3 separate regions of the Homo sapiens genome follow, and regions 2 and 3 are each linked to region 1. The links come from fine-mapping of genetic effects on gene expression. A gene starts in region 1. Each other region holds a variant in brackets. All regions are shown on one strand. Distances are between the middles of the regions.

Region 1 (2,760 bases):
GCTGATCCTTGGCAAGATATCTGAGACAGCAAATGACTCTCCTGCCCCTTCTAGGGATGCTTCTGGCCCCAGGTCCTCGCTCTGTCCTGTCACTGCCCCATCTTTGATCAGGCCATAGTCCCAGGCAGGTCCCTGGACTGGTGAATACACCCATCCTGTGTCTCACCTTCTTGAAGGCTTTGTGACTTTCAGACTGAAGAGTGGCTAAATCTATCCAGGCTAATGTGTTAACAATAAAGGGAAGAAAGCATTTCTCTCTACTTGTGGGGCTTTCTCCCCCTCTGGGGTACAGAATGTACATTTTAACTGGGGTATTCTGGAGACGATGTGTCCACTTCTGCTATTGCTATCAAGGAATGCCTTTTATTTCAGTCCAGGCAGGAAAGAGGCAGTGTCATGTCAGAGGAGGGATTCTGGGGGCGGCAGAGCCAGGCAGGGCACAGAAATTGCGCCATATTGCTACCTAGCTGGGCTGTTCCCTCACACATATGGTGGAGGAAGGGAGAAGAGAGGTGCTGAGATCTGGGCCCTCAGCAGGAAGGTGTCCCTCCTGTCCCACCAGTATGGGGCTCCTCCAGGGGTGGTACAGGCCAGCAGCCTGAGCACCAAATCCTTCCCATCTTAGCGGCTCCAGCCAGTGTGGCTGCCACATGCAGGGACTGGAACCCACACGTGCACAGCTGGGGGTCATGCAGGGCAGGCAAGCGACTGATGGTGACAAAGACAGTCCCTGACGTGCCTGCCGAATGTCTGCCTTCCCCAGGACACCCGCCTTGGCGAGCCTCCCATCCGCGATTCACGCACACCTTCATGCACACTGGCACGCTGAAACCCGGACTGAGGTTACTGCGGGCTTGGGGCTTCCGGAGAAGACGCAGGGGCAGGGCCTAGAAGGAGGGGCCGGAGGAGCCAGGGAGTCCTGGCCTGAGAGGAGGGGTAGGAGCCGTGGGTGGGGCAGGTTCCCTAAGCGGGGAGGGCGATGGGGGCTGACACTAGGGGGTGTCAGGGAGCGAGGAAATTGACCCGGCAGGATGAGGGCGTGGCGAGGGGGGCCTGGAGCTTGGCGACCCCGGGAAGGGGCTCCGGGAGGGTCTGGGGAATGAATGGGGCAACATATGGCGGCTACTGGGGATACCTGGGGCGGGGAGGGTCTGGGAGGGTCTGTGATACGGATCTGCGGAGCTGTCCGCCCTACCTGTCCGGGGAGCCGCCGTCTGGGGCCAAGGGCTCCCCCTCGGGCCGTTGCTCCCCTTCCGGACCCGGGCCGGGAGCCGGACCGCTGCCGCCGCTGCTGCTGCTGCTGTCACCGTCCATGCCCGTGGGCGGCACCGCTGTCCGGGCGCTGGTGCTGAAGCCGCGGCGGCGGCGGCGGCGGCGGCGGTGGCGGCGGCAGCGGCGGCGGGGTGCTCGTGCGCATGCGTAGGCTCTGAGCGGGCCGGTCGCTGGGCGGGGCGAGGAGGAGCCCAGCCAATGGGCGCGGCGCCGCTGCCGGAGCGGAGCGCTCTGTCTCTAAGATCCCGGGGCTGCGGATGTGAGCGCCCCTCTGCTCCCGCCAGGCCAGAGAGCCGCTGTTAGGAGTCCGGCCGTGCAACCCTTCCTAGCGGCCTCGGCCTTCCCGTAAGGAACCAGAGAGCGCGACACATGCAGAGATCCTCACAAATCAAAACGCAGACCCTTCCAGCCGGATAGAGGGCGAGCTCCACGCCCGCACTTCACCACGCTGGACGCCCCGGGTCGAGGCGGGCGGCTTCAGGCCTGCGAGGTTCCCGGCTCGCTCAGCGCCCTCCTCCCCTCCCCAGTGGGGCGAGGCATCAGGTTGGGTCTTTCTTCCCATCCTTCTGGACTTCGACTTGGACCTGGGTGTGCACCCCTTAGATGCGGAGCCCTGACTCCGTTACTCAAGTGCGCAGTCTGGTGAAGGAGGTGGGGGAAGAAGAGAGGCGCTCAGATCATCCCCAGCTCCTTCTCTTTCTTTTTTAAAATTTAAAAGGTTTATAAAGCAAACAAATCACAGTAAGCTAAGGTTAATTTTTGATTCAGGGGCACATGTGCAGGTTTGTTATAAGGGTATATTGAGTGATCCCAGATCCTTTTTTATAGTCACCGCTGCCCCCCCACCCCACCTCAGCCTGGGAGGTGCCCAATAGCCACTGACTCCAGGGCACTGGGAGGTGCCCAATAGCCACTGACTCCAGTGCCACCTCCCCCACCAGGGAGTAGCTGTGAGTAGAGCACATTTGGGTATGATGGACTGTGGACAGGCCTGGCTAAGGGGTCTAGAACTAGAATAGATATTGGCAGTGTGAGAAGCCTGGGGGGCTGGGAGTGGAGAGGATCCTGGATGTGGGATTTGACTAGGCAGAAAGGGTTTTACAGCAAGCAGGCTGTTCAGGGCCTGGTTACTTGTGCAGGGAGAGGCCTTGGTTGAAGACATGGGGCTGAGGAGAGAGTCAGGAACACTTGGACTATAGGTATCCCTAAAATGTGTGCCAATGCCAGTCCGTGTAAGACACAGGTCATAAGAAATGGGGTGGAAGAATCTAGAGGTGTAGAAGTGTTGGGTCTGCCCTGAATAGCTTATAGTTTGGTTGGAGAGATAAAGGGCCAGCCCATAAATTGCTGCCAATAGGCAAGATATGGTGAGGCCCATGAGGTGGTTGAGAAGGGGACAGTATGCAAAAAGGAAGGACCTCTTTCTTCCTAATAGGCCTTAGAGAAGGCTTCTTGGAGATGGTGGGGCTTCAGCTGGCTTGGAAGAAA
Region 2 (2,760 bases), 34 kb before region 1:
TGAGGAATTGCCATTTCAGCATAAACTGTCCTTAAGTCTACTGTAGAAATTGTTTTCATTCTGGAGATGGTGAGTCCCAGAAGATCATGGCCAAGATGATGTCCTAAGTAGCTTCCTCTGAGATTTTATGCCCAAGAGGGAGCCATCTGGCCACTTGCTTCTTCTTACATTTCTAATAGCTGCTCCATTTCCTTAAGGGCTGTTGTTAAATCATTTACTTGATTGTTACATAAGGTTTGCTGTTCTAGGAATCGGACTCTTTCCTCTTTCATCTCCAGCTTTACCTTTAAGGCCTGCATGGAAAGACATTCCAAAAGAAAACAACACATACACAAAACTCTTGACTAACAGGAAACACAATTCCCACATCAGAACATTATGCTCCTATTCCACTAAGGAAGACCACTGGAGTATCAACAGACTGTATCTTCTATTTTAGATTTTATTTCTATGCACTGGTTTTAGGAATTGTCCCTCTAGTAGTAGAGAGGGACTAGACTCCTGTATCTAAACTGGAACGATGAAATCCTCTACATTTGGTGCAATATCCCATGATTCATCCAAGCAATCTGAAACAGTCCAGACCAAAGAATCTGTGCTTACTACAGGTCTTCTCCTTGAGTTATCAAGTTTCCATAGAATGGATTACATATAGTTCTCAATTCCCAACTCTGAGCAACCTACTGTGTTACACATTGCCTCATGCCTTGGTGATGTGAACATTTGCAAGAAGCCTCGGTAACAGAAAAAAAAAAATTAGTGGAAAAAACTGCTAAAATCCAAATGAAGACTTGGAATATAGTTAATAGTAATGTACTGATGTTGGTCTGTTTTTTAAAAAATTTTTTTCCTGCCGGGTGCAGTGGCTCACACCTGCAATCTCAGCACTTTGGGAAGCCTAGGCGGGCAGATCACCTGAGGTCAGGAGTTCGAAACCAGCCTGGCCAACACAGTGAAACCCTGTCTCTACTAAAAATATAAAAATTAGCCGGTCATGGTCGCAAATGCCTGTAATCCCAGCTACTTGGGAGACTGAGGCAAGAAAATCGCTTGAACCCGGGAGGCGGAGGTTGCAGTGAGCCGAGATCACGCCATTGCACTCCAGCCTGGGGGACAACAGTGAGACTTTATCTCCTTGCCCTCCTGGGCCCAAGTGGTCTTCTTGCCTCAGCCTCCTGAGCAGCTGGGACTACAGGTATGTACCACCACGCCTGGCTATTTTCTAAATTTTATTTTGTAGAGATGGGGTCTTGTTATGTTTCCCAGGCTGGTCTCAAACTCCTGGCTTCAAGTAATCCTTCCACCTCAGCCTCCCAAAGTGCTGGGATTATAGGCGTGAGCCACCATGCCTGGCTGATTTCTTAGTTTTGACAAATGTACCAGGATAATGTAAGATGTTACTATTGGGGGTGGAGGAGGAAGTGCATCAAGAAGAATAGCTAATGGATGCTGGGCTCAATACCTAGGTGATGGGATGATCTGTGCAGCTAACCACCATGGCACACGTTTACCTGTGTAACAAGCCTACACACCCTGTACGTGTACCCCTGAACTTAAAAGTTGGAAAAAAAAAAA[C/AAC]ACGTTACTATCAGGGTAAATTTTCTGTATTATCTTTGTAACTTTCCTATAAATCTAAAATTATTTAGAAAGTTTATTAAAAATAAATAGAAAAACAGAAAAGACCCCACTATAAATCTACCTATCATGGTAGGAAATGGTCAGGGTGATGTCTGCCTCTCACCTGTAACTCCTCCATCTGCTTTTTGGCTGTTTCGTTAAAAAGCTTCAGCTCCTCTTGCAAAGTTTCTAACAGCAACTAAGAGGAAAGCACAATGTAGTAAACAAATCTTCATATAAAACCAGACTTGCATTAGATGATGGCTAACATCCTTTCCACACAGTTCTCAACAAAGGAGTCAGGAGAGAAATTTGATAAAGTATAGAACAGAAGAACGAGAAAGCTCTCTCTACAGGTTTACCTATTATGTGTTTTAAATTTTCAATTCAGACTCACTTATATTTGTAAGCACAAAGCTACCTTTCAAGTAAAATATGCTATTTTGAGTACACATCCCATTTCTCTTTTCTAGCATCACAGATAATCAAAGGCTGTTTCTTGGAGTTTATGGAATATATAGCAGAGACCTTCTTAGATTTACAGAGCCCCACAGTCACTCAGCCCTTGCGCCCTTTCACACCCATGCCCTCACCATAGAGTCCATGTGATCAGTAGTGGATTCTTGTCGTGATGCCAGGGTCTCACTGCCTAAAGCTGATGGATACAACAAAGTCAATCTCACTTAGGGAACTACACACCCTAAACAAAAGAAAATAAAAACCCTCCGTGGACAAGTACAGAAATATTCATGAGGGGAATTTCTCTTAAGTGTCTCATCCTGGACTTTCTCCTAAGTTTTCACCTTGGCAGGGTCACCCATATCTGCCCTGCAAAACTGTATTTTATCTCCTTTCAATCTAGGTTTTGATATGGCCAAAAATTCGGTATACTTTCTCCTTAGGTCAGTGGACAATTTGTCCAAAGGAAATGTATAGGTTGGATTTTTTTTGGTTTTGTTCACAATTCACAAAGCTATTTTTAAGAGCCTTTCAGGCCTTAAAAAATTATTACTTTCGGTAATATCACATGCATGTAATAAACTAAAATCATACAAAATATTTATGGTGTCGGATGTGGTGGTGCACACCTGTAGTCCCAGCTATTTGGGAGGATTGCTTGAGCCCAGGAGTTGGAGGCCAGCCTGG
Region 3 (2,760 bases), 310 kb before region 1:
TGGTCAGGCTGGTCTCAAACGCCTGAACTCGTGATCCGCCCGCCTTGGCCTCCCAAAGTGCTGGGATTACAGGCGTGAGCCACTGCGCCCAGCCATTTCCTGGGGATTAAAATATCTTACATCATGATTTTTTCCCTAAATATTTCTGGTGAAATATTTTTAAAGGAGTGAAATGTATATTTTTGCCACTTGGGATTTATTCTGTCATTCAGTCTAAAAACCTTCTTCAGCTGTGAGTGTAATTAATCTCAGCTATAGGTCCTACCAGGCTCAGTCTGATTTGTTATTTACGTTCCTTTTTCTTTTTTTTTGGAGATGGAGTCTCACTCTGTCACCCAGGCTGGAGTGCAGTGGCGCCATCTCAGCTCACTGCAACCTCCGCCTCCCAGGTTCAAGCAATTCTCCTGCCTCAGCCTCCCAAGTAGCTGGGATTACAGGCATGTGCCAACACGTCCAGCTAATTTTTGTATTTTTAGTAGAGATGGGGTTTCACCATGTTGGCCAGGCTGGTCTTGAACTCCCGACCTCAAGTGATGAAGCACAAAAATACAGTTAGATAGAATGAATAAAATCTAGTATAGGATAACATAAGGTGATTAAAAATTTTTAAAAATAATTATATGTGATACTAAGTTTAGCATAAAAACAGATTTTAGACAGAATCAGTTTATATATCATGAAATCTTTGTACCTCGGCCTCCCAAAGTGCTGGGATTACAGGCATGAGCCACCGTGCCCAGCCTTACTGTTGCTTTTCACAAACTTTAGAACTGAAGAAAATTTTAGGCCAGCTGTGGTGGCTCACACCTGTAATCCCAGCACTTTAGGAGGCCAGTGTGGGTGGATTACTTGAGCCAGGAGTTTGAGACCATCTTGGGCAACATGTTGAAATCACATCTCCACAAAAATTAGCTGGGGGTGGTAGTGTGCATCTGTAGTCCCAGCCATTCGAGAGGCTGATATGGTAGGATCGCTTGAGCCCAGAGAGGTCAAGGCTGCAGTAAGCCATGATCGTGATACTGCACTCCAGCCTGAGTGACAGAGAGAGACCCTGTCTAAAAAAAAGAAAGAAAAAATTTTAGAAGCAAACATATTAATGCTGGAATCAATCTCTTGCCCCACAAGTATTTTTTATTTGTGGAGCAATCACCTTCAAACTCTTGTTCTTCAAGTCTGATCTGGATCTTTGGGGCTGAGCTCTGTTATGAAGTCATGTTCTAAGAAACAGTAATAATCTCACTTTCTTATTGACCAAAAAAGACATATATATTTGAGACTGGGCACAATGACTCAGGCCTGTAATTCCAGCCCTTTGGGAGGCTGAGGCGAGAAGATCATTTGAGCTCAGGAGTTTGAGACCAGCCTGGGCAACATAGTGAGACTTGGCCTCTCAAACAAACAAACAAAAAAAGACATAAATATTAAAAAAAAAAAAAAAAACAAAAAAAAAAAAACAGATTAGGAGAAGAATGAGTGATAAACAACATTACTTAGAAACAAATATATGGGGCCAGGCATGGTGGCTCACGCCT[G/A]TAATCCCTGCACTTTGGGATACAGAGGCAGATGGATTACCTCAAAAAAAAAAAGAAAGAAAGAAAAGAAAAGAAATATATCATAAGTACTTGTTAAAAGAATGAAAATAGGCTGGGCACAGTGGCTCATGCCTGTAATCCCAGCACTCTGGGAGGCCGAGGTGGATGAATCACCTGAGGTCAGGAGTTTGAAACCAGCCTGGCCAACATGGTGAAACCCTGTCTCTACCAAAAATACACAAATTAGCTGGGTGTGGAGGTGCACGCCTGTAATCCTAGCTACTCAGGAGGCTGAGGCAAGATAATCGCTTCAACCTGGGAGGCGAAGGTTTTGGTGAGCCGAGATAGGCCACTGCACTCCAGCCTGGGTGACACAGCAAGACTTCCGTCTCAAAAAAAAAAGAATGAAAATAAATGAGCTAGGTACCTACCATCACAAGAAGTTAGAAAAAGAATAGCAAACTGGGTGCAGTGACCGACACCTATAATCCCAGCAATTTGGGAAGCTGAGATGGGAGGATCTCTTGAGCCCAGGAGTCCGAGACCAGCCTGGGCAACATAGTGAGACCACATCTCAAAAACAAGAAAAATTTTTATTTTTTAATTTTTAGATGGGGGTTTCACTCTTGTTGCCCAGGCTGGAGTGCAATGGTGCGATCTCGGCTCCCTGCAACCTCTGTCTCCCGGGTTGAAGCAATTCTCCTGCATCAGCCTCCCAAGTAGCTGGGATTACAGGCATGTGCCACCATGACTGGCTAATTTTGTATTTTTAGTAGAGACACGGTTTCTCCATGTTGGTCAGGTTGGTCTCAAACTTTCGACCTCAGGTGATCTGCCCACTTCAGCCTCCCGAAGGGTTGGCATTACAGGCATGAGCCACCATGCCCAGCCAAGAAAAAAAAATTTTTTAGAGATAGGGTCTTGCTATGTTGTGTAGGCTGGATTTGAATTCTTGGCCTGAAGCACCCTGCTTGAACTCGGCCTAATCTCAGTTTTGAATAGGTAGGTGTCTCCAGAGGAAGGTTTCTTTGGTATATCTTCAAAGGTCTATTGGATAAATGCTAAAATATTCTTTATAAAGAAACACTACTCACAAAAGATTTAAAGTAATAAACTTATTTTAATAGTGCAAAATGTAATCTGCTTTCCAACCAATGAAAGAAAAACTTTCAAAAAATTTATGAAACTAGTCAATACCTTGAACAAAGAAAAACACAAATAACTAAGT

Direction of the effects. Alleles are on the strand shown, and positions count from the first base shown. SD is a standard deviation of normalised expression in the study named. Not every link is listed here.
In carriers of allele AAC in region 2, the expression in fibroblasts of the gene that starts at base 1,417 in region 1 tends to be higher than with C alone (moderate effect, 0.66 SD a copy in GENCORD).

Evidence for each region. PIP is the estimated chance that this variant, and not a neighbour inherited with it, causes the effect.
Region 2: its variant is fine-mapped to the expression of DISP2 in fibroblasts (GENCORD, PIP 0.95).
Region 3: its variant is fine-mapped to the expression of DISP2 in subcutaneous fat (GTEx, PIP 0.94).

Annotation. Positions count from the first base shown.
Region 1 is chr15:40,356,876-40,359,635 of GRCh38, reverse strand. DISP2 (dispatched RND transporter family member 2) reads right to left here and starts at 1,417. Exons shown (of 8, transcript NM_033510.3): 1 at 1,196-1,417. The coding sequence starts at 1,314. RefSeq lists a silencer at 1,237-1,496.
Region 2 is chr15:40,391,002-40,393,761 of GRCh38, reverse strand. It overlaps KNSTRN (kinetochore localized astrin (SPAG5) binding protein), which reads right to left. Exons shown (of 9, transcript NM_033286.4): 7 at 2,208-2,269; 8 at 1,739-1,813; 9 at 1-293. The coding sequence ends at 165. Among named protein-coding and RNA genes, the nearest start is that of KNSTRN, 9.7 kb to the right of the region's middle. The variant C/AAC (reference allele first, on the strand shown) is at 1,576.
Region 3 is chr15:40,664,215-40,666,974 of GRCh38, reverse strand. KNL1 (kinetochore scaffold 1) reads right to left here. Exons shown (of 26, transcript NM_144508.5): 26 at 2,633-2,760. Among named protein-coding and RNA genes, the nearest start is that of RAD51-AS1, 30 kb to the left of the region's middle. The variant G/A (reference allele first, on the strand shown) is at 1,533.